Regions from separate parts of the Homo sapiens genome. Here region 1 is linked to region 2. The links come from fine-mapping of genetic effects on gene expression. A gene starts in region 2. The other region holds a variant in brackets. All regions are shown on one strand. Distances are from middle to middle. Region 1 overlaps LOC124902874 (a long non-coding RNA gene). Region 2 holds the start of CLEC1B (C-type lectin domain family 1 member B).

Evidence for each region.
Region 1: its variant is fine-mapped to the expression of CLEC1B in monocytes (Quach 2016, PIP 0.95).

Annotation. Positions count from the first base shown.
Region 1 is chr12:9,955,166-9,967,095 of GRCh38, forward strand. LOC124902874 (a long non-coding RNA gene) reads left to right here. Exons shown (of 2, transcript XR_007063207.1): 2 at 589-1,832. It also overlaps a transcript of CLEC12A not described here. Among named protein-coding and RNA genes, the nearest start is that of CLEC12A-AS1, 7.8 kb to the left of the region's middle. The variant A/G (reference allele first, on the strand shown) is at 3,435.
Region 2 is chr12:9,991,463-10,008,418 of GRCh38, forward strand. It overlaps CLEC1B (C-type lectin domain family 1 member B), which reads right to left and starts at 7,659. Exons shown (of 6, transcript NM_016509.4): 1 at 7,575-7,659; 2 at 6,820-6,918; 3 at 5,698-5,817; 4 at 5,384-5,538; 5 at 3,678-3,784; 6 at 1,613-1,825. The coding sequence starts at 7,638. The coding sequence ends at 1,681. It also overlaps a transcript of CLEC12A not described here and a transcript of CLEC12B not described here.

The DNA of each region.
Region 1 (11,930 bases), 39 kb before region 2:
AAGCTCTGCCTCCCGGGTTCACGCCATTCTCCTGCCTCAGCCTCCTGAGTAGCTGGGACCACAGGCGCCCGCCACCACGCCCGGCTAATTTTTTGTATTTTTTAGTAGAGAAGAGGTTTCACCATGTTAGCCAGGATGGTCTTGATCTCCTGACCTCATGATCCTCCTGCCTCAGCCTCCCAAAGTGCTGGGATTACAGGTGTAAGCAATCATGCCCAGCCAACTTTATGTTTCTTACTTAGGTGAACATCTAATATATACAAGTTATAAAAATGGTTAACAAGGAAATAATGAATAGCTTTGATATCTCTTTTCTCATAAGTAATATAGATAATTGCTAAAAAAGTGAATGAAATATAAATGGCATAAATGCTCTAAGTGAACTTTTTGTGTAATTTAATATCTTGAAGTTATTTTGGATGCTCATGAGATGTGTGGGTCATTTCCAATTATGAAAGGGTTTCAATACAGAAAGTTAAATGATGTAAAAACCTTAATTCCTTTAAATCTCAGTTTTCCTAAGCAATCAAAAACCCAATAACAATGACATAGAAATTATTTTGATAAAATGTAAAATTTGTTTCTCAGGTCAGTTACCAAAAGGCAAAGAAAAACCTCCTGCAGTGTGATTGCTTCTCCTATCAGAGTCCCATCTCGAAAACCTGAAAATCAAACCTGATAAATGATGTAGACATATCAAGAAAAGCCAAGAGGACAGAATCAAGCTATACTGGAGGAAAACGTTGCTTCTCTAGAATTTTAAAATAAATATTTCAGCATCAGACCATGACAGCAGTTAAGGCAAGAGGGAAAAAAAAGATACAAGAACTGACAAAGTTGAAGGAGATAGTTTCATTTCAGGTTCCTTCAAGGGGAGACAAGCTGACAGCAACAAAACACAAGAAAGCTGCACTTTGGAGATATAGATCTGAGAAGTATTCAAAAAGTAACAGATTATAGAGTCAAAATCAAAACCTCTCATCCAATCAATATTTTAAGAAAACCTTGTTCTAACCCAGGGGACTAATCTATATCTCTCTCCCCTAGTTACTGGATCCTTTCTACCCTGTTTCATAAACAACCTAAGTCTATAATTTGAATTAACCTTTAGATAACTTCTGAGTTAAACAAAATTATTTCTTTAATCAATAAGAACACATCTTCTTTGGCACATTGTACATGGAATCATACAATTTGCTGGAATTCTTATTCTTAGTAATCCTAAATTTTAATGGAAACCTAGGAAGCAAGAAATCCTGGGCTGTCTATCAGATATTAACATTTTATAGATGAGAAACATGAATGTTCTCAGGCCCAGAAAACTCAAGTTGTTTTGGGACCTCAAGAAAAGAGGAATTCACCCAATTCATACAGGTATCTGCAAGCACAGATCAATTATTGGTTGTGCTCGAGAGGCCTTTAAAAATCAAATCTGAGATTCCTTATGAAAAGTTCCAGCAAAGCCAATTTAAAAAAGCCTATATGAACAATAATTCTTGCTTCAGTTTATGCAAATAATCAGGCAAACTATAATAAGATTAAAACAGATTTTGCAAATAAATTGGTCCTACTGTGATTTGCCTTTCATGGAAATGGGGAGCTGGAGAGAGAAACATTATGTTTTGGAAGAAAACTGCAGTACACCTGTTATTAGATTAATCTTTGACCTATGGCAACCTGGTCATCCATGGTATGGAGATACATCTGTGCTGTGCTGCATTCAGTTATTAAAAGTATAAGTTACCAGTGGAATTTAGATATGGATTCATCACCTCAGAAGTTGGTTCACTGGATGCATAAGGAAATAAAAACTAATTTTTAAAAAAGCAAAATTTTCAATCCCTTGGTTTTTGTTATCGATATAAACCAAAATGTATCTGAGGTAGGTCTCAATTAATTTCAAAGTTTATTTTGCCAAGGGTAGGGATATGTGCCTGAAACACAAGTCTGTGCCTTTCTCCAAAGATGCTTTTGAGGGCTTCAATATTTAAAGGGGAAAGGGCAGATATTGGGGAAAGAGGAAGAAATTTTAAAAAGGTGTGGGTAGGGCGGTGGCTCATGCCTGTAATCCCAGTAATTTGGGAGGCCAAGGTGGGCAGATCACCTGAGGTCAGGAGTTTGAGACTAGCCTGACCAACATGGACAAACCCCATCTCTACTAAAAATACAAAAATTAGCTGGGTGTGGTGGTGCACGGCTGTAATCCCAGCTACTCAGGAGGCTGAGGCAGGAGAATCACTTGAACTCGGGAGACAGAGGTTGCAGTGAGCCAAAATCGTGCCACTGCATTCCAGCCTGGGTGATGACAGAGTGAGACTTCATCTCAAAAAAAAAAAAAACAAAAAAACAAAAAAAAGGTGTGGGTAGATAAGAGACAAATGGTTGTATTCTTTTGAGATTTTGATCAGACTTTCACTAAATACACAATTACATGTGAGAGTGGGGTAAAGAAATAGTCACTTATGCCTCAGTCTAGATCAGTGAATCTGCATTTTTATACAAACGAAAGGGCAGAGGAAGCAATCAGATATGCATTTGTTTCAGATGAGCAGAGGGTTGACTTCAAGTTCTATCCTTTGTCCCATACCTGTGAAGATAAGCTATCAATTTACATTGCCAGGGTGAAATTCAATCGAATAAAATGGGAGCCAGGTTTGCCTGACACAATTCCCAGCTTGACTTCTCTCTTTGGCTTAGTGATTTGGGGACCCCAAGATTTATTTTCCTTTCACATCTGTAATAGCTAAAATTAAAGTAGGAGAATATTGGGTCAGGCTTTGAGGCCAAACCAAGCCTAGATGTGGGTCTGTCTGAACTCAGATCACTAGCCTCAAGGCTGCTCATGAAGAAGAAAATTATGCCAGGAAACCAGAAAGTACCTCTGAGATCTGTGGTTTCCTGGAAGGTAGTCAATGTGGGGAAGGAGTGAATTAAAGTGACTTCTGAAACTAGAGGGTATAATGTGAAGGAATTGTTCTATTTTGCAAATCAGTATCATTAGCTTCCTGAACCTTTACTAAAATAAATTGTGAGAGTAATTACTTTAGGCACAATGTCTTTGGTTTTAAATGCTGCAGAGTGGAAGATCCGGTTGATACAGAACCCACGGCTCACAATTGAACAGTTGCAGATGGGTACATATAATCCGGGCACACAGGAGGTTATTCCCAAAAGAACAGCCTACTTGGTGGACTGGATAAAACACTGTGAGAACTATTTACTCTGAGAAGGAGAATTGTCCCACTCCACCTATAAATGCCAAGTGGAGCACTCCAGATGAAGCAACAGATATGCTTCAAATGTAAGCCACGGGGGACTGGCTTTATAATGATGTGGCAGGCCAGGTCACTAATGCAGGCCTCCATAACAACTGTTTCAGTACTGACTGAGTGGTTAAGTTAAATGTTAAAAGGTAAAAAAGCCAGTGGCCTTAT[A/G]CAAACTCTGGATTGTAACAAAAGCCCACCACGAGTTTTGCCTAGGACTTTCCTGGGGCTTGGACCCATGACAAGATAATGAAGGAATTCTTAACAGGACCAGATTAGGATTAAACAAGTTTTACCGGCAGTCTGAAGAAACTTCCCAGGCTTCCACAGACAAGTTTATTGGAGATCTCAAGGAAGTTCCCAAACCTCCATGATTTAGCAGGAGACAAGATAGGGTAATCACCCCAGCACCTGGACCCATATAGATTAAGTAAATTTACTAAGCCTCCAGAGGAAGGTCTTCAGAACTCAGATCTCAGTTATAGATTACAAGAAGTTAATCACTCATGTTTTTAGATGAATGCACTTACACACAGACATATAACTTAGAAGGTAATAAGCTCTGGAAGACTTTGTAATTTTGAGTTGGTCTGGCAATATTTTCCAGGCCTTCTCCCTATAACTTGTTAAAGAAATAAAAACTCTTCCTCCCCAGTTCATCTGCATCTTGTTACTGGGCTGGAAGAAATAGCAGTCTGACCCTCAGTTTGGTCCAGGAACAATGATAGAAATATTAACTTGGCTGGGCGTGGTGGCTCACTCCTGTGATCCCTGCACTTTGGGAGGCTGAGGCGGGTGGATCACATGAGGTCAGGAGTTTGAGACCAGCCTGGCCAACATGATGAAACCCCATGTCTACTAAAAATACAAAAAATTAGCTGGGCGTGGTGGCGGGCACCTGTAACCCCAGCTACTCTGGAGGCTGAGGCAGGAGAATCTCTTGAACCAGTGAGGCGGAGGTTGCAGTGAGTAGAGATTGTGCCACTGCACTCCAGCCTGGGAGAGAAGAGCGAAACTCTGTCTCAAAAAAAAAAAAAAAGAAGAAAGAAATATTAACCTTACTTTTTGGTTTTTGGCTCTTTCGTTGCTTTGAGTTTTAATGGTAATGAGTCCCTGGCACCTCTATTCTTGTGTGGCCTAGAATGTTTAATTGACTATAAGTCTTTTTTGACTCTAAGTCCCTTGGTTACAGGGGTCCCACTGACGAACAGGATGGACTCGGGGCAGGTAGTCATACCACCTTGGAAATGATATGGAACAAAATAAAGTTTGGCAATCAATGCTCCCTCTGGCATATTCCAAGGAGACCTCAGTTTCCAAGAGATAAATCTTACCTGGGAAAAGGTCTTGCCCCTTGCCCTGCTGAGGGTACTGGTAGCTCCCAGAAATGGATTAGCTCTTAGCCCCTTTCAAAATGTTTACTTGGAGACTGTTTTCCTGGACTCTCTGATGCTTGAGGATTTTTTCCTCCCCTGAAACAGAAGCTATGTCATACATGAAACAATTAGGGAATATATTAACTAGTCTCTCCAACAGACTTCATTTCTGTATGGACTTGCCTCTTCCCTGTTTGAAACCAGGGAATCGAATCATACTGAAGACCTGGAAATCCCATCAGGCTGAAGACTAGCTGCAACCACAATAGGTCAGTCTTTTTAAGGTGCTGCTGACCACCCACTCGTCTATCAAGTTAGCCAGTGTTAAACCATGAATTCAACATACTCAGTAAAACTAGTCACTGTGGGATCCCTCCAGGGGAAACAGTCATGCTCTTGTGAACCTATACATGGCCTTAAGTTAATATTGAAAGCCCAGCCAAAGATCCTAGATAAGAAACTGTAAAAGGAATATGCATTTTTCAGTTATTATTCTCTTTAAACCCACAGCTTTTCACATATAAGATATAATGAATCAGGAATACTTTTTGGTAGGCTTAGGATTGTTCTCTTGGATTCCCCAAGGGATCCACTCCAAATTCTCTGGTATTTTAAAATTGGTTTATCTATATTATTTATCATCCTTGTTCAATGTGGCCTAAAACGTTGTTCTAAAACTGAAATAAAAGTACCCAGATCATAGTGCTCCAATGACTACTTCTGATTATAGTGCCACATTTCCATTCCTTATCATTATTCCACCTCACACGTCCTCAGCATGAAGCAGCCAGAAGGATCAATGACCAGATTCTCCATGATTGAGGAAGTGATAAATAGAAAAGAGAGACTGAAACCGGCCCCGTTATCTTATAGAACTAATATTTACAGTTGTTTTTGTTTGTTTTGCTTTGGAACATAGAAATGGACCCTGTCTGGTCTTAAAACTTGAAACTTGTTTGTTTTCCTGAGTTTCTTGCTTAGAAAACCGACTTTCAGGCAAGGAACTGAAACTCATCAGAGCACCACACCCAGGCAATGAGACTGCAGATCCTTCACCCAGCATGATTTTTTCCCTACCTCTGCCTAATTTCTATTTTTCCCCTGTCCACGTAGCATCAAACTCTGTAAAATATTTGAAGAGATTTATTCTGAGCCAAATATGAGTGACCATGCCCGTGACACAGCCCTCAGGAGGCCCTGCGAACATGCACCCAAGGTGGTTCAGGTACACATTGGTTTTGTACATTTTAGGGAGACACGAGGCTTCAATCAACTATAAACATTTACTGATTGGCAATTGGTTGAGTTTATCTAAAGGTCTGGAATCAATAGAAAAGAAATGTCTGGGTTGTGGTAAGAGGTTGTAGAGACCAAGGTTTTATCATGCAAATGAAGCCTCCAGACAGCAGACTTGAGAGAGACTTAAGTATTAATGCCTGAGAGATATAATGAAGCGTGTTCGACACGCACTTCCTGTCATGGCCTGAACCCATCTCTCAGGTTAAATTTTCAAAGAGCTGTGGTTGAAGAGGGAGTCCATTCAGATGGTTGAGGGGCCTTAGAATTTCATTTTTGGTTTACACTCCCCACACAGCTACATTTCTGCCTGCACATAGCTACATTCCTTCCTCACTATATAACCTCCCAATTTTAGTTTGTTGGAGAACAAAGCCAGAATAAAGCCAATCCTAGTCATAGCATTGCAACTTGTATCAGATGAAAGAAACCTACAAAAAGATAATTATAAAATTTAGATAAAATGTATAAAACAACTGAGAAGGCAAAATTTGAGGGGCTCCAATTAATCAAGGTTTACCGCTTATATTCTGTGTGACTGCCAGAAAAAAAGAAACAAAACTTTTTGGTAGGAAGATCATTTAAAATTTCTGTTTTTAATACATAAGGCCTGTTATTTAATAAAAAATTATGAGACAACCTAAAAAAAAAGAATTAAATATCAAAACACCAATTGACAAGCCAAATGATAAAAACTGGCCTACATATGGTTCAGAAAATGATTTCAATAAATCTACTCTTCACCATTCTAATCCCTTTGCAGTGCCCTAGGATGGTGACTGACTCTCATGTATAATATCCCTGGACACTATTGTCCTGAAGCTCTAGGTATGTTTGTGCTAATAGGAAGAATAGGCAAAAGATTTAAAGGTGGGAGAATCCTTCCCTACAGCACTAGGAAATGGATATGGAGTTGTTCTCGCTGAGTGTACCTCCAGGGAGGCAGCCTTCATCAGCTATAGTTTCTGCTGCTTCAGTTAATTGCTACCAGCAATGTTCTCTCAGGCCTAATGTAGTAATGGCTTCCGGCAGTAGCTAGCCCTGGGGTATTTCACTATCCCTCATGGTTTCCTTTGGTCTTATCTCTATCTTGTAAATTGTCCTGTTATTTTATCTTCTTAAATTTTCCTTTTAATGTATAACCGGTTTTTTCTTTTTTTTTTTTTTTTTTGGATCCCAAGTGTGTGTTTCTTTTTGGTACCTGAGTATATCACTGTCACTGTGGTCTCTCAACTTTTAAATTATGTGACTCTGAAGGTGTGTGTCTCCAAATTTTTATCCCTGTGCACTTTTCTTCACCTGTCTTCATTTCTTTCCCTTTTTTCCGTTATAACTTTCACTCACATCCGTGTGAAGAGACCACCAAACAGGCTTTGTGTGAGCAACAAGGCTGTTTATTTCACCTGGGTGCAGGTGGGCTGAGTCCGAAAAGAGAGTCAGCGAAGGGAGATAGGGGTGGAGCTGTTTTATAAGATTTGGGTAGGTAGTGGGAAATTACAGTCAAAGGGGGCTTGTTCTCTGGCGGACAGGAGTGGGGGCCACAAGGTGCTCAGTGGGGGAGCTTTTGAGCCAGGATGAGCCAGGAGAAGGAATTTTATAATGTCATCAGTTAAGGCAGGAACAGACCATTTTCACTTCTTTTGTAGTGGAATGTCATCTGTTAAGGCAGGAACCGGCCATCTGGATGTGTATGTGCAGGTCACAGGGGATAGGATGGTTTAGCTTGGGCTCAGAGGCCTGACATTCCTGTCTCCTTATATTAATAAGAAAATAAAAATGAAATAGTGGTAAAGTGTTGGGACGGCAAAAATTTTGGGGGCTTGGTATGGAGAGATAACGGGCGATATTTCTCAGGGCTGCTTCCAGCGGGATTAGGGGCGATGTGGGAACCTAGAGTGGGAGAGATTAAGCTGAAGGAAGATTTCATGCTAAGGGGTGATATTGTGGAGTTGCTAGAAGAAACATTTGTCATTTAGAATTATTCGTGATGGCCTGGATACGGTTTTGTATGAATTGAAAAACTAAACAGAATAAGAGAAGGAGAAAAACAGGTATTAAAGGACTAAGAATTGGGAGGACCTAGGACATCTAATTAGAGAGTGTCCAAGGGGGTTCAGCATAATTACTTACTTGGTTGGCAAGTTTTTGGGCTCTATCCTTGAGTTTTTTATGTTGTCATACACCAGGCCAGATTGATTTAGGTAGAAACAACACTCTTCATTTAAGAATATACAGAGTCCTCCTTTTTCAGCAGTGACTAAGTCAAGGCCTCAGCGGTTTTGGAGGACAACTGCAGCTAAAGAGTCAACTTGGGCCTGGAGGACTGATAAAGTTTGTGATATGTCTGTGATGCTAGCAGAGAAGACACTAGAGAGGCTATGGAAGGTCGTGACAGAGGTTGAAATGCCTCCTATTCCAGTACCGAGAGCAATAGTGGAGGCAGAAAGTCTTAAACTGATAAGCAAGGGAATTAGTGGAATAACTCTTTTTTGTCGTGTCGGTGTCATGAGGGGAACAGGGAGCTCTTCGGTCCTATTTGCAAATTGAATTTTAGGAGTAAGGAAAACTAGTGTGCATGTACCTGTCCAATTAGCAGGTAGACACATGGAGGTAGAGGATCCACAGAGGAAGAAGAGACCTTGTGCGAGGCAAAACTGGAGAAGCAAAGTAAAAAGATGAGAAGGAGTGCTGAAAGGGGTGTCTTGTACCCAGACTCCTGGGGATCCAGCTAGGGCAGCAGCCATCAGAGGTTGTAATGGGGACTGGTGGGGTAACTGCGTAGAGGGGGAGGTTCGATTTTCATGGTGTATGAGAAAATGTTGAGTGTCTATGAGCTACCTTTCACTGTTATTTATGGGGCTGGGTATAAGTAAACAACAAGAGGGCTTTGGAGATGAAGAGTAAAGGAACATCAAAGTGAAAGGTTACCCAGGGGAATTCCAGTGGGTCTTTGCTGAGAGATACATAAAGGAGCAGCCACAGGAATAGTAGTTTGTGTTGTGAGAGGTAAATACGGGGGGAGTAGAGTTGATACAAGGAGAAAGGTTTTTTAAGTAAGTGTGGAGGAGGGCGGCAGCTTGCTGACGTGAAATGTCTGGGGAGGTCTAGCTGGACCTGTCTAGAAAGTAAATGAGTTCATCAGGAGGGTAAAGGTGAGGGCTGTTAAAGGAAGTTTGGAGGTGTAGGAGACAGGAGATGTTGCCTAGTCTGCATGTAAGGTGGGGACAGCTGTGTAGGCATTGGAAGAAAGGGAAATGCAAAGCTAGAGTTTGTTCGCTAAGGAGGGATTAGAAACAGCTAGGAGAGAATGAGTAATGTTTATAGTGTGGTGGAGATAGCTGGGGAGAGGTAGAGGGTGGCATAAGAATGGGAATGAGAATAAGATTGAGTATAAAAGTAAAGAATAGAACTTCATCAGGGTGAAAGTATTGGAGGGTCCCCTGCCAGCAAAGATTATCTATCCCCTCTGAGAGGGAGTTAAGAGTTGCCAGTCCTGGGTGGGGGCAAATCCTCGAGCTTGATGTGTAGGGAAAGGAGGGGGCCTGAATAATCTATGAGGAGGAGTAGAATAGTAGATGGAACAGAAGTTATTTCCTTGAGGATAGATTTCCACGATGGAAAGGAAATGAGAGGTTCTAAGAGGTGGGCTGGTGACTTGTACTATAGCATAGCCTGCCTTTGCTGGTGTGTGGCGATTAGGCCTGGTGGAACTACTATGAATAAACTAAGTGTGTTCAGGGTGAGGAACACGAAAGAAGGAAATATGAGGAAAAGGGGTGAATGTCAGGTGAATCAGAGAGATACAGTCATAGGGGTCAGGTGTGGTATCCAGAATACTGTGGGAGGCTGGATTGAAGTCTGGGCCAGGAACAATGGTAATTGTCAGAGACTTAACAAAAAGGGAGTGTAGCTGAAGGAGCCAGGGAGCAGAAAGTGTATGCGTCAGGTGGGAGAAAGAAAATAGATTTTGGAAATTATGAGAACCGTAGAGAATGAGTTGGGCATAGTTTGTGATTTTTTGGGCCTCTAAAAGTATTAAAGCAGCGGCAGCCACTGCATGCAGACATGAGGGCTAGGCTAAAATGGTAAGGTCAAGTTGTTTGGACAGAAAGGCTACAGGGTGCGGTCCCAGCTCTTGTGTAAGAATTCTGACTGCCCTAACCATGCCTAGGAAGGAAAGGAGTTGTTGTTTTGTAGAAGGGATTGGGGTTTGGGAAATTAGCCGGACATGATCAGCAGGGAGAGCACATGTGTTTTTATGAGAATTATGCTGAGATAGGTAAGAGATGAGGAAGAAATTTGGGCTTGACTGAAGTAATGGGGGCTGTCTGTGAAGCCTTGCGGCAATACAGCCTAGGTAATTTGCTGAGTCTGATGGGTGTCAGGGTCAGTCCAAGTGAAAGTGAAGAGAGGCTGGGATGACGGGTGCAAAGGAATAGTAAAGAAAGCATGTTTGAGACCCAGAACAGAATAATGGGTTGTGGAGGGAGATATTGAGGATAGGAGAGTATATGGATTTGGCACCATGGGGTGGTTAGGCAAAACAATTTGGTTGATAAGGCACAGATCCTGAACTAACCTGTAAGCCTTGTCTGGTTTTAGGACAGGTAAAATGGGGGAATTGTAAGGGGAGTTTATAGGCTTTAAAAGGCCATGCTGTAGCAGGAGAGTGATAATAGGCTGTAATCCTTTTAAAGCGTGCTGTGGGATAGGATATTGGCATTGAGCGGGGTAAGGTGATTAGGTTTTAATGGGATGGTAAGGGGTGCAGGATCAGTCGCTAAGGAGGCAGTAGAGGTGTCCTATACTTGTGGGTTAAGGTGGGGAGATACAAGGGGAGGATGTGAAGGAGGCTTTGACCTGGGGGAAAAGGTGGCAATGAGGTGTGGCTGTAGCCTAGGAATAGTTAGGGAAGCAGATAATTTAGTTAAAGTGTCTCAGCCTAATAAGGGAACTAGGCAGGTGGGGATAACTAAAAAGGAGTGCTTAAAAGAGTATTGTCTAAGTTGGCACAAGAGTTGGGGAGTTTTAAGAGGTTTAGAAGCCTGGCCATCAGTACTTACAACAGTTATGAAGGCAAGGGAAACAGGCCTTTGAAAAGAAGGTAATGTGGAGTGGGTAGCCTCCGTATTGATTAAGAAGGGGACGGGCTTACCCTCCACTGTGAGAGTTACCTAGAGTGTCTGTGATGGTCCTGTAGGCTTCTGAGGTGATTGGGCAGTGACAGTCTTCAGTTGTTAAGCCGAGAAGATCTGGGAAGGAGTCAGTCAGAGAGCCTTGGGGCAGAGTTCCAGGGGCTATGGGAGTGGCTGCCGGTGAGATGGACAGTCTGATTTCCAGTGGGGTCTTGCACAGATGGGACATGGCTTAGGAGGAATCTTGGGCTGCGGGCATTCTCTGGCCAGGTGGCCAGATTTCTGGCACTTTTAGCAAGCTCCTGGGGGAGGCAGGCCTGGAGGAATGCCTGGCCACTGTGGTTTAGGCGTTTGGAAGTTCTTGCGTGCTGGAGATGTGGCTGGGGTTTGTCTCACAGTGGAGGCAAGGAATTGCAACTCAGAAATATGTTGCTACTTTGCTGCCTCTACTTTATTATTGTACACTTTGAAGGCGAGGTTAATTAAGTCCTGTTGTGGGGTTTGAGGACTGGAATTTAATTTTTGGAGTTTTATTTAATGTCGGGAGCAGATTGGGTAATAAAATGTATATTGAGAATAAGACGGCCTTTTGACCTTTTAGGATCTAGGGCTGTAAAGCGTCTCAGGGTTGCTGCCAAACGAGCCATGAACTGGGCTGGGTTATTATATTTGATGAAAAAGAGCCTAAACGCTATCTGATTTGGGATAAAGAAAAAGGAACATTAACCTTGACTATGCCTTTAGCTCCAGCCACCTTTTTAAGAGGAAATTGCTGAACAGGTTGGGGAGGGCTAGTCATGGAATGAAACTGTAAGCTGGGCCAGGTGTGAGGAGAGGAGGTGATAAAAGGATTACAGGGT
Region 2 (16,956 bases):
AATTTTGTACAGTTTTCTGAATTATTGGTTCCTATTTAGTTTCTCTAAATAGACAATTCAAAATAAAAAACATACTGATACCATCACCCAAATCCAAGATCTCCAGACATTTGAAGTAACAAGTAAAATTTGAGGTATTTCTATTATTTTTCCTAAGCCCTCCAAATCTGCTTAATTATTGATAGGCTAGAAAAAAGATAAAGATTCAAGTGTCTTTCAGTGTTAGCGCACAAAGCTTTAAGAGTAACACATATTTATTGAGTATGTATTACATACTTGGTATTCTGATCGATACTTTATATAATCATATTAAATGAGCTTCACAATTAACTTATGAGCAAGGTAATAATATTAAACCCATTTCAAGGTGAGAACATTACTTATCCAAAGCCAGATAGAGAGTAAGTTCTAAAGTAGTGATATTTCTCTAACTGTATTAAAGACTACTTGTATGAGAATTGTGTCGTGATGCTGGTAAAAACCCAGGTCTCTGTGTCTCCTCAGTCTTCCCACTGAGTAACATCAGCATTTGAGTTTCCTATTTGGTTTCTCTATGTTTTAACCAAAACCTCCGTTGAGATGTTTGAGAATCATGTTCGTAAATGGTAGCCACTAGTTAAAAAAGGGAAGCTGTGGGAAAGAAATGCAATTTTTTCCTATTATCCTGTAAAAGGGTGCCTTTCCACATATTCTGTAAATACTTCCTGAGTTACTCAGCAAAAATAAAGCACAGAACTGTTAGGAAAATACTAATTAAAGCATTTTTACTTGTCCTTCTGTCTAGTAGCCTCTGAAACTTAAGAAGCATTTATTCATTTTACAAACCCAGTGAGTTTTCTTGCAAACTTTCTTTTCCTTCTCTAGCGCAGAAAATTACTACTGTTGAATCTAACCAGAGGTAGACTTGGAATAGTAATTCTATTTGCGTAATGTTTTAATGATTGAGCTATTTTTCTCATGAACTATCTTATACAAAGAGAAACAAATATCTCTCTGTTTTGTGAGCCAGGGTTTCGGGTTGGTGCTGGTAAGAGAATAGTGAATGGGGAAGTCATAGTGTTCGCTTTCATGGAGTTTCTGGTACAGTTAACACTCTAAAGTTCTATTTTAGGTTGTAGAACTGTGAGATATAAAAGATGGTTGTTATTATTCCTATTTTAAATATGAGAAAAGGGAAGTTAAAGAGGTTATGAAACTTGTTCATGATTGTAATTTAGTTAATTGACATCTAAATTATTTTGCTGATTCTAAGTTTAATATTCTTTTTACTATCTTACACCGCCTTTCAAACTTAGATATTTTGGACAGATTTCAAACATAGATATTTTGCACAACTTATATTAATTAAGCCCTAACCTATATTGGCCTGATTTTGATGTTATATGTGTATATCTGAAGATGCAGTAAATCATACCATGTTCAGGTAATTAGAAATGAAGGACAAGAAGAAAGAAAATTAAAGGAAAATAGAACAATTGGGAAGCAAATGATAAACTCACGTGATGGCTTCTGTATATTCAAAGAAGGGACTAGGTAATTCTGATAGGAAAGATAATATTAAAAATAACTCCAGTGAGAAGAAAGGGAGAAATAAGCAATTTTCAGCTACTGATGCATTCATACATATCTTTTATTGTACAATAAAGCCCTTATCTGTGTTATCCTGTCCACCTCTTTGCATTAAGGTAGTTGGTCCACCTTGGTCATGCCAGCCTTCCTCTCACACATTAAATAATGTTTGTTCTCACAGAAGGTAGGGTGCATTTTCCCATTATGAAAATAAGCACAATTCATATTTCCTTTTCCATCTTCCAAAAACTCAAACCTGTGAAGGGAAAGTTAGAATAAATTCCTTTGAAAACTGAGCAAACAATCAGTAATCAGACTCTGCGTATAGTAGTTTGATGCACCAAATAGAGACTGAGGAAAATAGGAAAAAAAAACAAAAAAAAAAACGATTCTCATTGTTGAGAAAGTTCCACCCTGCTTGGCAGTACAAGATATGCATATTTAAAAAGCCCAATATCAATTTCATTTAGCATAAAATTAGGAGCAAGGGAACAGTAGGTACAATAGGAGCCCTGAAGAAGTGATGGAGATGGCTCCAAAATAATGGGAAAACGCATTATCTACAAGATCAGACTTTAGTTCGGTATTGATGGAAGGTCAGGACTCAGATGAACTGACAGGAGATGGAAGAGCCCTACAGGACAAGTAGCTGCACTAGATGGGAATACGCTCATGGAAAAGTGAGTTGATTCAGTAGTTTTGAAATCAGGATTTATGTTGCAAGATAAATCATCTAACACAGCAGGCTGTATTGTAATTGTCTGTTAAGTTATATTTCTTTCTTTCTAAACTGCTTATAATGAGATGACAAGGAATATATACTTATTGGTTTATTTGGAGAATACCTGCAGAACTATGTGACAAAGTTGTTCTATGTGCTGAGGATACACTGATAAAGAAAGACAAGAAAGCTAATGTCTTTCTTGTTGGGGAACTTTCATTTAAGTGGGGCGATACCGGTAAGAAGCCCACAAAAAATAGACAAGAAAAATTGAGACAGTGGTAAGAGTTACAAAGAAACAAAACAGTGGTGGACTGTATGGATATGGGTTTAAGGGAGGCTAATTTAGTTTGGGTAGAGTTAGGTTCACTGAAGAAGTGATGTTTAAATAGAGACTTGAGTCTCAGTGGAGAGATGGTCATGGAGTTGTGGAGGCAGAGCATTCTAGAAGAAAATAGCAAGACAAAAGCCTTAAGGTAACAAAACGAGTTTGATTTGTTGGAAGAATGTAAAGAACACTAAGTTGCCTGCAATATTGTAAATGAGGCAGCAAGCAATAGGAGATAGGAGATAAAGCCCAAGGTCTGTGAAGAGGCTTGCTTGTAGTTGTAGTATCCTAAGATCCTATCTATAGTAAATACTTAATAAATATTTGTTTAAAAATTTAATTCATAATTTGAGTAATAATCAGATTATATAAGTTTTGGTTATCAGTTTAAATTTTAATTGAAGAGAGACTGCAGTTTTGATATACAGGATGAACAAAAGATGTTGAGACTGCAGATTGGAAAGCCATATAGGAAGCAACTCCACTCAATGCAATCAGTCCCTTTGCCTGGATTGTTTGTAGAAGGACAAAGCTTCGTTAATGGACATTGGAATTATCTTGTGAAATACAATGTATCGAATTCTTGGAGACTCCCAGAATAGAGGAATAGGCAAAACAATATTGAAAACTCAAAAGGACTCTCAAGATAACAACTTTCAACTGTAAAATAATGATATGAAATTTTGTTTTAAAAATATGTGAAGATAATCAGAACAAGCAAAACACAAAAACACACACACATGTGCATGCGCGCACACACACACACACACTCACACATACACATACATGCACACAGTGTTCCATGGTAAGGTTGAATGTAAAAATGAATGGGAATAATATCAGAGATAAAGGTGGATTGTGGCTTAGATAAAGAGCAAAGTAATGGGAGAGAGGGGAAAGAATTGTCTTATGACCAGCGCTGTCTTGTTTGAATTAGCAGGTAAGTGACCCAGCTGCTGCTTCTATAACCCATAGTAGTGACTTGGACTGAGAGAAGAGGGAATCTCAAGAATAAGAGTTTCCAGTACTCCCTCCTATTCTAAGTGTCCAGTGACTTACATATTTTCTGAGATAACCGAGCCATCCTCCCACTTCCAGACCTCATTCGACTTCTGGCGAGATAATCCGACCCAACGAATTAAATGAGTCCTGGCTTTGATGTACTCCTATTGTAAACATAAATAAACACAATGGTCAGAATCCCTCCACAGCTCTTGGTATGATAGACAAAGCTTCATGATAAGACGTTGGACAAAAAATGTTGGATTACATGTCTATATTAGTATTAATGGATTACATTTGATGTTTGAAATTGTACCAATTTGACTTGTCTGAGAACTTAAAAAAAACTTATAGGACACAGGTAAAATTGTACACAAAATAGCTGATATTCTAATCTTCTTTTGTGTTTATAACATGTATTTAGATCTTCAACCAGTTGAGGATTATACTCCCAAATAGAATACCAAATATGATTCAAAGGAATAAATGTAAACAGAGAAAGGAAATACAAAGAAATACATTGTTGATGAGCTGTATATTCCTTAGAGTTAAAGCCCTACCTGCTTTGGTTTTATTGCTCAGCTTGCCTATAAAATCTTACATATGGAAGTATTAACTTGTTGTAGTTAATTGGATAAAGGCATTTATGATGTCTTTCTCAAAAGGATTTATAAATAACGTACATCTACCTTTCCCTATTTACTTTCTTCTAATTAGCAATTATCACTATCTACTAAACTATATACTATATCATTTGCTTTGTTTCTTGGCTGTTGCTTTAACTAGAATATACTCTTGTCGAGGTTAAGCATTTTTCTTTCTGTCTTACTAACTGCATAGGTCCAAATTCTGGAATAGTTTCAGCACATAGTTGCTGAATTAATGAAGGAATAAGTGAATCAATCAATCTATGGGTAACAAAATTATGTGAAGGCCAAATGCTTATATATTCTGAGACCTCCCAGAATAACAAGTGATAATGCATTCTTGGTAAATAAAAAATGACTTGAGCTTCTTGACAGATATGTGAGACTCAAAATGGCATTCCACAGGAGATATTGTGTGAAAGTCACATGTGACTGTTTATTTCTTAAAGCTTGAGCCACCGGGAACCTTTCTGTTATATCCTAATATTTTCTTTAAAATATATCAATATTATATACTTCCCAATAGGAACTGACAGATAAATTCTACCTGAAATCCAACTATACAATTTCTTTTTCTGAAAAAGTTGCATGACTACTTTTAGTTATAAATCTTCAACCTGGCATCTGCCTAGACTAATACAAATTAAGGATATGCATATATGTCTCGAATTAATCTCTATATAATAGAGCTGAGATTTTAGAAAACTATCTTATTTTGCTGGAGTGGAAAGAAAAGCTAATTTATGTAACTGGATATCTTCCGTATGCGTCTGAGTCCACAGAAACAGTAAGTGGACAGCACAGCAAGTTAGAACAACAGAGGACACAAATAAATATGAACATCACTGGGCTGACTCTTCATGTGTGACCCACTATGTACCTGAGCTGTCAGGAAGGGACAAGTCAATTTGACTGATCAACTCTATCAGTGTTGTAGAATATTATGAGTGGATTGAATATCTGGGTTCTGTAATTCTTACTAGGTTTCACAAGGGTCTTAGATTAGTACAAACTGAAAGATGTTAAGAAAAATGTAAAAAACAAAAAAAGGTCAAGTGTTACATTTGAGGTTTCTCTTCCTTGCCTCCAAAATATTTGACATAAGAATCTTCTTACCACAATGTTCCGGTTGTCAATCTTCAGGAGAGTAGCATTCATGTCAGTGCAGTACTGCTTACTCTCTTCCCATGTTAAGTTGTGCCTGAAGAACCCATAGCAGCTATCTCCATAATATCTCCAGTTTGTGTCACAGGGGCTGCATTTATGACCTTCTGGAGAAACCAAGCACAGGAATGGTGTATTTTTTCTAAATTGGGCTTACATTTTCTTCACATTCAATGTTTTCTGCAGATCTCAAACTCCCTTCAGTTGCCATCAGAGAAATGCTCCAGGGGTTGGAGAGATGAAGAGGTTAAAAAAACAATACTTACTGAAAGTGCCCTTTAGTTCTGATTGTTTTACCACATATTGACAGAAGCGCTTTGCTAATTGTTGCAGAGTTCCTGTGCGATTTTCATTCTCACCTTGTAGGTAATTGCGCTGCATGACAGCTAGGTTTAAAAAGTAAATAATAATAATTTGTAATTAGAACCATAGAAATGATGCAAAGGTCTGTCATTGAATTTTCATTTCCTTAACTTTGCCAATATATGAGGAGTTTACTAGATACACATGATTAAATGAATGTTGAAAAGTGTGGAGGGGCTATAAAGAACAAATTAAGAAATACACAGAACTGACGCCTGAGGGTTAATAAGTGAACTGTTTGAAGGAGACAATCACAAATAAAAAATCCCAACATCGATAACATCCCCAGAGCCTGTATTCATTTGCTTGAATACAAGCTTCTCAGCTGAGTTATAGAGGTGAATGACCTCTTATTTTCTGTTCTTTCTGTGATGCCAAACTATTCATTCATTTAAAAATACATACTGATTTCTTGTTATGCTTAAAGTACTTGTGATATTCAGGTAAATAATAAAGAAATACAAGAGGATAAATGTTAGATTCTAACATCTTTTAAAAAAATCAACAAATACACAAACAAGCAACAACTACACAGACTTCAATGTGCTATTGGAGGGCCATGAGAATTACAGAAAGAAGAAATGCACAGTAACTTAGTAAACAAAATGAGAAACAGAAAATTTTAGGTAGAGAGAATAGAATGAGAAAAATTTCAGACAAGGGAACATGGAATTTATATATGAAATTGAAAAACTCCAGTTTGGCTGGTTCTTAGGAATGCAAGATAGGAAAAGGGATGAAAAAGTTTTTAAAAATAGTTTGGATCCACACTGAGGAGGGTCTTAAAGGCCAGTAGTACATTCTTAAAAATAACTTTTCATTAGTTAAAATCTTAAAATCTTATTTTAATCACAAGGAAACAGTCAGTGTTCTCCTTTATTGAGATTCTCTTGGCAACTATCTGTAGGACAACTGTAGAAGTGATAAACAGACAAATAGCGACCATTGAGAAGCTTAGTGGGATATGCCATGACCCTTCAGTATTACCTTCCTCCAGTCAAATTTCTGGCAGAGTCAACACTTACACCAAATCCCCAGAGCCACCAGCCCGACAACCATCCCCACGCACAGGATCAGCAGAATCAAAGCCATCACACGCCACCAGGAGGAGGATGCAGAGCCAACTGTAGGCATATAATAAAGACATCAAGGAGCAGGCAGTATGGGTTAGCTATGGGGAAGGCTCACCCCTGCCCCTGCCCCTGCCTTCTCAGGGTCCTCCAAGTAATAGAAAGAGCTTTGCTGGCAGATCTCACCTGTGTTCTCCTCATGATCATCAACAATAGGCATGGCCCACCCCTATACCATACATCCATTCTCATCTCCAATGCACTTTACCTCTCCAAGCTGAAATATTACTTGCTGTTAAGGCCTGATGTGTTTGTATTTTTTGTTTTGTTTTGTTTTGTTTTGTTTTGTTTTATGCTCACCCATGCCATAAATAATTGCTTTAATAAACAGCAAATGAAGAATCACACTCATTTGCTCACATATAGAAAATGAAATTTCCACTCTTTTCCGTTATCCCCTTGACTTCTATGCCCTCGAGTATTAAACGCTCAGAATCTTAATGCAATTTTCCCTGCACATATATTGGATGTTTGTAATCTAAATAGGTCTGTATGAGCTTATGAAAACACTACTCAAATGCTTTAGAGCATTAACATCATTCAAGAAAAAGAAATTAAACTATATATATTATCAATAGTAGAAAAAGAAAGAATTGAATCAACTCATTTTTTAAATTAATTTCCAAATTATTGGCTCTGAGCATTCTTACCGGAGATGAGAGCTGGTTTCCGAGTTTTAATATTTAAGGTGATGTATCCATCTTCATCCTGCATGGCTTCCCGAGTACTGCAACTGAGCTCAGAGTTCAATGACTTTGCAAAATGTAGTTTCCAACTTTACAATTTCAGTATCTGTCAGTTTATGATCTTCCTGTCTTTAGTAGGGTAGAACCATGTGAGATGGGACACATTTGTTTTCCTTTGCTTATTGTTTTCCAGGAAGCTTCTTCATAGCTGCTCAGAGATACATGGACCTTGAACACAAAAACACAAAAATAATAATAACTTGTGGTAAAGGAGTAGATAAGGTATTTGCTTCCTGCTTTTTTTTTATCTTCAACACTAAATAAAGGGACATTCCATCATGTGCATCCTTTCTAAGAACAAAAGTTCATGCTTTATCTTAGCCCTAGCTTAGTCTAAATTACATTGCTCAAATGAGAGATTTCTGCTGAAAATTCATGGATATAGCTCACCAGCAGATATATAGTTTATCTCATTGTGAGAAGCAAGTGTAATATAATTGGATCTGATAGGGGCTAAATTAGCTGTTTCATAGTCTTGTGTTGGAAGAGATCATTCCTGATTATGACCTAGAATTTACACAACTTCTTGCATATTTCATACTTTTTTTTATTTGAAGGATCCACATGAGGCAGGCCTGATATTGCTTAGATTTAGGTATTGAAGGAAAACTATCAAATCAAGTAAAATAATACAGAGTTGGTGACTTGCTGCATTGTTCTTTAGTAGTGTTTGTGCTTTAAAGTGAGTTTCCTGGAATGGAAGAATTTTGATTTGATGAAATCACTTCATTTCAAGTACAGCTGTGCTTAGATGAATATTTGAGACTGAATGGTTCCTAGCACCTTTTCATCACAATATAATATGTATTGCACACACTTAACTTTATGAAATGGGCTTTTACATTATTTTAGCTTGCACTGAAAGTAGTTGTAAGAACAGCCATACAAAGCTAGCTGATGCATTTATTATAGGAATATTGGGGAGGATGTTGTCTATTTTGCCATAGGGTAACTCTTACATAGTTTTATGGCAGATTTTTATTTTTGTTAAATCACCATGACTAGCAAAGCTTTAAGTAGTAGGCATTTACCTTATAAATAATTTGAATTCTATTTTTCTTTACTTAGCAGAGTGTTAGACTTTTCAATATAGTGATTATGTGGGCTGCAGTAGCAGATATTTTGTTTATTAACATGCCCTTTGGCATAGCCCGTAGATTTTTTCTCCCCTGCTATCTCCTTCACTCTGAATTTCTTGTCAATTCACTTAAAATTATCTTTCATTCTAAATTTCTTTCTCTATACTCTTCAAATTATTTTGAGAATGAGGTGAAGAATAAGCATAACACGTATAAAAGACATTCCCTGATTTTGGAAAGCCAAACTTAGTATGATTCAAATATTTTTACCAAAACTAATTCTTAATTAAAAAAAAACACATTTGAAATAAATGCCAAATTTTAAGAAAAGACTAAAAATTTTTAAAAAACATTAAATCCCAACACCATTTTTGTTGCTGTGTTTCTTATCTCAGTTAAAATATTCAGGGGTTCCCAATCATAAGCTGGGTAAATTCAGTCACTTACCATTCATCTACCACTGCTTCTGTTCTCATAACTTCTGTTTCAGCTAAAAGGGATTCTTCGCTCTCCCATCATTTATCCTCAGGCTTTTCTGGAAGATTGGGGTTGGAATGGGGTTTGATCCTCCCTCTCTTCCTTCCTTTCTACATCTACTCATCAGCAAGTCCTGAGGCTATTCTGTCACAGTAACCCCTGTCTTTCACGTTCTTTTGGTCACTGCTTTCCTTCAGTGTTTTGTTACCTAAAATATACAGAAACACTAAAAAATAATCGAATAAATAACTGTGACAAAGTAACAGAGAGAAAAGAAAATGTGTGGAGGTTATAGTACAAATGACACTTTTCCAATAAAGCTTTACTCTGTTCTCTTAGGTACCAAACAGGTACATATGAAAACTTAATTTGTTACATTAAATCAGATATGTAAAGGTAAGATCCAAGGACATTGAGACAATTTTTAAATTATTGTAAACATTTTTTGTTTATTAACAAAAACTTTAAGATGGTATTAAAGAGAACAATTAGATTGCTTTGTTGAGGTTTCCACATTCTCTAGGACTTGAGCAGCTGATTTCATTATAAAACATGTCCCATGTATTTTTGTAAACCACCAGGAATGTGCCAGGATTAGTTCTTGATCCTTTAATGCTTAGAACTGCATATTTAATGCCTGAAGTAGGTTAACACTCCGCCTTTGAAGATATTCCTTTCCTATATCTCAGGCTCTGGACTTTCCATTGCTTCATTCCTCTTTCTCATTGTAATTTAACCTTGCTTTTTGGATCTTTGATCATTCCAGCCACAGTCTGAGAGTCTTATATCTTATCTGTGTTCCACAAAATATACGTTTGCCTTTCTGTGTATCCCCCCTCACATGACTTTGTGGTGTTAGAAGCAAGCTGAGCGAAGACAGAGACTCTCAGGGCCAAAGGAACTAGCCCTTGATAACATTGAGTTCTAATTTTGCTCCCTCCCCACATTCTATAAATGTAAGTTGAGTTACTCAGCAAAAATTAAGCAGAGAACTGCAGGAAAGAGAGATAGATATCACAAATGCTTCTTTTCCTTTTCCCAAATCCAGAGTCTTTGCTAGTTACCTTTTAATCACCCTCCAAGTCCCGTTATTAGCTTATTTTATTTCTGCTTCAATATTTTAACCTTGCTTGAATATCTTATTCTCTTCTCCTTTTCTTCACTAAGGAAACTATATACAGCTAAACAAAATCTTTTTTTTTTTTTTTTGAGACTGAGTCTTGCTCTGTCGTCCAGGCTGGAGTGCAGTGGCGCCATCTTGGCTCACTGCAAGCTCCGCCTCCTGGGTTCACGCCGTTCTCCTGCCTCAGCCTCCCGAGTAGCTGGGAGTACAGGCGCCCACCACCACGCCTGGCTAATTTTTTTTGTATTTTTAGTAGAGACGCGGTTTCACCGTGTTAGTCAGGATGGTCTTGATCTCCTGACCTCGTGATCCACCCGCCTCGGCCTCCCAAAGTGCTGGGATTACAGGCTTTAGCTACCGCGCCTGGCCTAAAAAAATTCTTTATTCCAAATTTCCTGATGAAATTGAATTTAAAATAAAACCTTTTATTCATTCAATATTTTACAGATTAAGAACACTCTAAATTGTCTGTTTTAAAGGAAATATTTAATGAATGTTAATTATGTTTCAGACACTGAAATTGGTGCTGAGTATTCATGGAGAAAAATCATGAGGTTAGTCTTTATGAAGCAGAGTGTTAGATTTTAGCTATGTGAACTTCTTTAAAAAAATTTACAAGTTGGGTAATGTTTTTTTTTTTTTTTTTTTTGAGACGGAGTCTCGCTCTGTCGCCCAGGCTGGAGTGCAGTGGCGCGATCTCGGCTCACTGCAAGCTCCGCCTCCCGGGTTCACCCCATTCTCCTGCCACAGCCTCCCAAGTAGTTGGGACTACAGGCGCCCGCCACCACGGCCGGCTAATTTTTTGTATTTTTAATAGAGACGGGGTTTCACCGTGTTAGCCAGGATGATCTCGATCTCCTGACCTCGTGATCCGCCCGCCTCGGCCTCCCCAAGTGCTAGGATTACAGGCGTGAGCCACCGCACCCGGCAATTTGAGGAACTTTTTAATCATTACACTTCTTGTAAAAAGTAGTACTATTTACCCAGTTTCTAAATTCTTTCGACTACATTATGAAGTCTTTCATAGACTCCATTATCTATGTTTAAGGCTGAATAATGAGTTAAAGACACTAATAACAATGACAAGGAGTACATGCAGTAAGAATGAAAATTAGTGGAATACGTAACATTGTGGTTAAGACTGATCAATATACAGGGATGTCCTGTATATATTTTACACATGTAAAATATGTGTAAAAGAGAAAGACAACAAGATGTTGACCACTGTGGGTGTTATAATGATTCCAGACAGAAACAAAAGGAAGTGAGTATTTTGCAACTGGTGATAGCTATTCTGAGACTTTTTAACATAAACCACTTTTAAACTAAAGCTGTTTGCCTTTGACTTACCAGGCTTTCCACAAATACTAAATACTGTTTAATTTGGTAATGGTAGGATTTCCTGTCATAGAAAAGTATAATTAATATTTTCTCCTTCATTTACAGAAAGCTTAAACATGTGGATTTCAAAGTGAAATGAGCTTTTTTTTAAAGTTAATAAGCTAAACAATTAATAACTATCCGACCAAAATTACAGCAGAGCATTTGTTACAAACAGTAGGGAAACTGAAGGAAAAAATGTGTCAGTCTGCAGTCATACCGCAAAGTTGATCAGGCATATGTATACAGAACATATGTAAGTAAAATGTTAAACAATAAATAACAATGAATTGGATTAAGATTTACATTAATATTTGAAGAAAATGTAAATATTGACTAAGAGGAGAAAGGAGAAGGCAATGTTTTTCAGGCAGGGCAAACAACTGAATAAAGGTCAGGAAGTTCGAATACATGTACCTCTTGTAAAAAGCAATGCCAGGCGTCAGGCATGCTAGCTCACTCCTGTAATCCCAACACGTTGGGAGGCCAAGGTAGGAAGACTGCTTGAGCTCAGGAGTTTGAGACCAGCCTGAGCAACATGCTGAAACCCTTCCTCTACCAAAAAAATACAAAACTTAGCCGGGAGTGGTGGTGTGCGCCTGTAGTCCCAGCTACTTGGGAGGCTGAGGTGGAAGGTTCACTTGAGCCCAGGAGGCAGAGGTTGCAATGAGCCAAAATTGTGCCATTGCAGTCCAGCCTGGGTGACAGAGCCAGACCATCTCAAAAAGAAATAAAAAATAAAAAATAAGCAGTACCATCTAACCTCATCTAATCCACCCAGTGTGATTGAGGGAAATAGTGTGATTAAGGTGAAATGGGAGAGGTCTGGCCCTCTTAGCAGGGTATGTGACGGGCATGTCTGTCTGTTTGACTGTCATGAGCTCAAATCCCTTGTGGGAGGGAGAGCATGCAGACGGGCAGGTGCAGGAGTTGGGGTGAGCACTTTGGGCTGTGGCCCCACTGTAGTGTCTAGGGGTGGGTGCCTGGAACCCCAGTGTTACAAAGTTCTTTTAGCTCTGCCATCTGCAGACAACATAAGTGTTAACCAGCTCAGTGCCTCCCCGGCCTTTTCTCAAGGGCAGAGGGCCAGTGTGACAGCTTTCTGTATTCCAAGCTCTTGTCCAGCATCCCAGAAGAAACGGGTCACACATGAACTCAAAGGATGAATGTGGGGGTTTTACTGAGTTGTGGAAGTGGCTCCTAGTGGGATGAATGGGGAGCTGGAAGGTGGATGAAATGGGAAGGTGATCTTCCTCTGGAGTTTGGCCATCCAACGGCCAAACTACTCTCTGACCACTCCCAGCCAAACTCCTCTTGGCGTTCAGAAGTTCCTCCTCTTCTCTCCTTCTCTGTCATGTCATTCCACCTTTCATCTGCTTGTCTTCTCATCTCCTCGTCTGCTCATCTGATCTGGAGCCTGGAGTTCAGGGTTTATATGGGTACAGAATAGGGGGCATGGCAGGCCAAAAGGCAACTTTTTGGGGCATGAAAACAGGAATGTCTGTCCCCATTTGGAGCTGCCAGTCTCCCAGCTTAAGGGTGGGGCACGTGCCAGGGAACCACTCTCTTCTTTATAAATATATATATATAACATTTCAAGTTCTAGGGTACATGTGCACAATGTGCAGGTTTGTTACATATGTATACATGTGCCATGTTGGTATGCTGCACCCATTAACTTGTCATTTACATTAGGTGTATCTCCTAATGCTATCCCTCCCCACTCCCCCGACCCCACGACAGGCCCCGGTGTGTGGTAGGAACAACCCTCTTCTACCCAGTATTTCCCTGTCTCTTGTCTGAATCAAAGAGAAAGTGAAATGATCTAGTATATTTGAATTAAGGATTCACAGAATGTTAAGTATATCTACTATTGTACTTTCCAATTAAAATTACTATAAAACTTCATGGCAGGGACTATTAATTAATCATTTATTTGAACATATGTTTACTGATCACTGCAGATGTCCAAGGCACAATTCTATTTTCTGGGGACCAATGGTTAATGAATTATACAAGCATTTAGCTTATATTATAGTAGAAGGTGGTCAGCACAGATAGTAAAGAAACATAGAAAGCAAAGATCAAGATAATTGTATATCATGGAAAGTGTTATGAATGAAGAAAAGTGATATAATCGAGTTCTTCTGGACAGGCTCAAGCAGACCCTCGTTGTGCTCATGAGGATTGGTTTGTTTAAGCTTCACTGTCAGTGCTTGGACAATTGCCCAGGTTTCTTCCATTTTTAATATGATCCAGAATAATCCAAACTTGCTTCTACGATGACAGCTGCCATTTATTGCTCTTTCTATATGCTTTTATCAGTTATATTTGTGGCAGGAATTAAATTTATGACAGATTTACTATTAAGAAAAATAAAGCACAGAGGTTCAATAACTTGCCGAAAGCCACAAGGCAAGTAAGTGTTGCTCCAGGATTTGAATCAATTTGTCTGTCTTCATAGTGCTTCATTTTAATTGGGATATTTTATTATGCTGGTCAGGTATATTCACCTGATGGGGTAAATATATTAATACATTTCAAAATAAATTCCATCCTATATTCATCCTCTGTCTCCTTCTTGTGGCCATTTATTTTCCTTCTGCTTTTAGTTTATTTTTGTTTCCTTTAAGTCTTTGATACCTCTGGCTTTCATCTTCACTTTTCCCTATTTCTTTTTTGTAAATAATTCGGAATTAATTGTCATTCTTGCCATTCTCTGGGTACTTTCCCATTTAAACCCCACTTTAAAAGTGTCCTCTGAAATAGGCATGAAATGTGAGAACAGAAAGAACAGAGTGAGAATGAATCCTTCTGTCATGTTAACTCAATATTTCTTTTAAGATCTTCTAAATCAATAATACTTCCACATTTAATAACTGTGTTTCCATATTTTCCAAGGTGAACAATATTTTCTGACAAGTTTAATTCATGTGAGAGCAGCAAGAATTGTCAAAGGTGATTCCAAGTTTTTAGCTGAGAAACTGTACGTATGGAGTGTACATTTGTTAAGATGAAGAAACACATTGGGAAAAGGTACCCATTTTTTGATGTGTTAAGCTAGAAAATCCTATAATATATCAAAGTGAATATGCCAAGAATCCATTCAGATACGTGGTCCTGTAGATCAAGCGCTGGTATGGAGATAACAATTTTTGGACATTATCAATGTATGGCTGTTATCTCAAGGCACGAATCTATAAGAAATTAATTCCCATTCTGGCCATTCTCTGGGTACTATTCAATTTAGTTCATTCCAGGATAAGTTTTTTGTTTTTTTTTTAAGAAGACCAAGAATTGAACTCTAGGACACAACAACATCTTAAATTAATTTAAAGAGGAATCAGTTAATCTGAGGGAGGATTGGGTTGTGAGTGAAGCAAAAGGAAAACCAAGAGAATGGTGTCCTAGGGAACAAAGCATTTTGGAGAAGAAAGTTTGTCACGAAAAGTGAATAATCAGTTATTTAAAATTCTGTTTATACGATGTGTAAGATGAATCCTGAGAACTAGCCATTGGATGTGTTTATACTGAGGTAATGTTGACTTTAGCAGGAGTGTTTTTTAGAAATAGTGAAAGAAGGGCCAGGCGTGGTGGCTCACGCCTGTAATCTCAGCACTTTGGGAGGCCGAGGGGGACAGATCACGAGGTCAGGAGATCGAGACCATCCTGGCTAACACGGTGAAACCCCGTCTCTACTAAAAATACAAAAAATTAGCCGGGCGGGGTGGCAGGCGCCTGTAGTCCCAGTTACTCTGGAGGCTGAGGCAGGGGAATGGCATGAACCTGGGAGGCGGAGCTTGCAGTGAGCCGAGATCGCGCCACTGCACTCCAGCCTGGGCAACAGAGCTAGACTCTGTCTCAATAAAAAAAAAGAAAGAATAAAAATAAAAAAAGAAAAAAAAGAAATAGTGAAGGAAAAAGCCTAATTAGAATAGGTTTGGGAAGATCATAGAGAAATTTTTGAACCCATTTGTTGTTAAGAAAATTAGAGAAATGGAGTGATCATGTGTATGGTGTTACGGTGAACAAAAGATGGCTTCTGCTTGTTTTAATATAGGAGATATTATATCATCTTTGGAAGTGAACATAAGTGAACAAGTAGAGATGAAAAAAATGGAAAAATTGATAGAAAGAGAAAAAGAAGGAAAATTACAAGCTTGAAATCTTTAAGGAGATAGGTGGATGGATTTTAATATACAGATGGAGATTGATCTTAGATGAGTAGTACAATTCAACCACTGTTGAAAAGAATACTACCTCATATACTGATGTAGCTGTTTTGGTATATTTGACTAGTGAAACAGAGAAAACTTCTTTCTGAATTTCTTTTTTTTCTTAAGATAATGTTAATGGAAAAGCCAGGTTATCCGTTTAGTTTGTAGAAAGAGAAGACAGAAAGAAATTTGAGAGTCTGAGAAAGAAAAAGAGATTGGGAATAATCTTTTAGGAGATTTGCAGAACAGATTGATTAGTAAGAGTGCTGAGAAGTTACATTTCAAAAACGTAAGATAAAACCAGTTAATATGATCACATTCAGCTACTTGAATGTATGCACAGAGTAGGTAGGGTTGGATTTAAACAAGCTGCATTTTCTAGATGCTTATGATGAATGAAGAGGTAAGCAAGGAAGTTGTAGCTGTGGGTAAGAAAACGATTTTTATAATTGGCCCTGGTAAGTGGTGCATGCTGGGTATAATAGGAAATGAGACATGAGGGATTGACAACAATGAGAAGTTGGCATGGTCAGTGAAGTTGCTATCTCAGTGGGCACTGAAATGCTGTAGAGTGTAGAATACCCAGAGAGAGTGGGCTGGAAACATAGGAGGTGGAGGTCAGAGAGTGAAATATCTGAAACAGATCATGGAAGAATTTCTCATATTGGAAATGAAATTGTCTGCACTCTAGTGCAGTGCTGTTCAATAGCCACGTTGCTAATAATGGAAATGTTATTTACCTGCACTGTCCAATTGCATAGCCAATGCCACCTGTGGCTGTTAAGTACCTGAAGTATGACTAGTGTGACCTAGGAAATAAATTTTAAATTTAATTTAATTTTAATTAATTTAAGTTTAAATAGCAATTATATGCCTAGTGATTACTACGGTGAATAGCCTAGCTCTAAACTAGGATCATCTAGTGGGTGACTGATTTTTGTGTGTGAGCAACTGATTTCTGAGTGTGGGTAAGGTTATTGGAGGCAAATTCAAGAACTGAGAGCCCATAG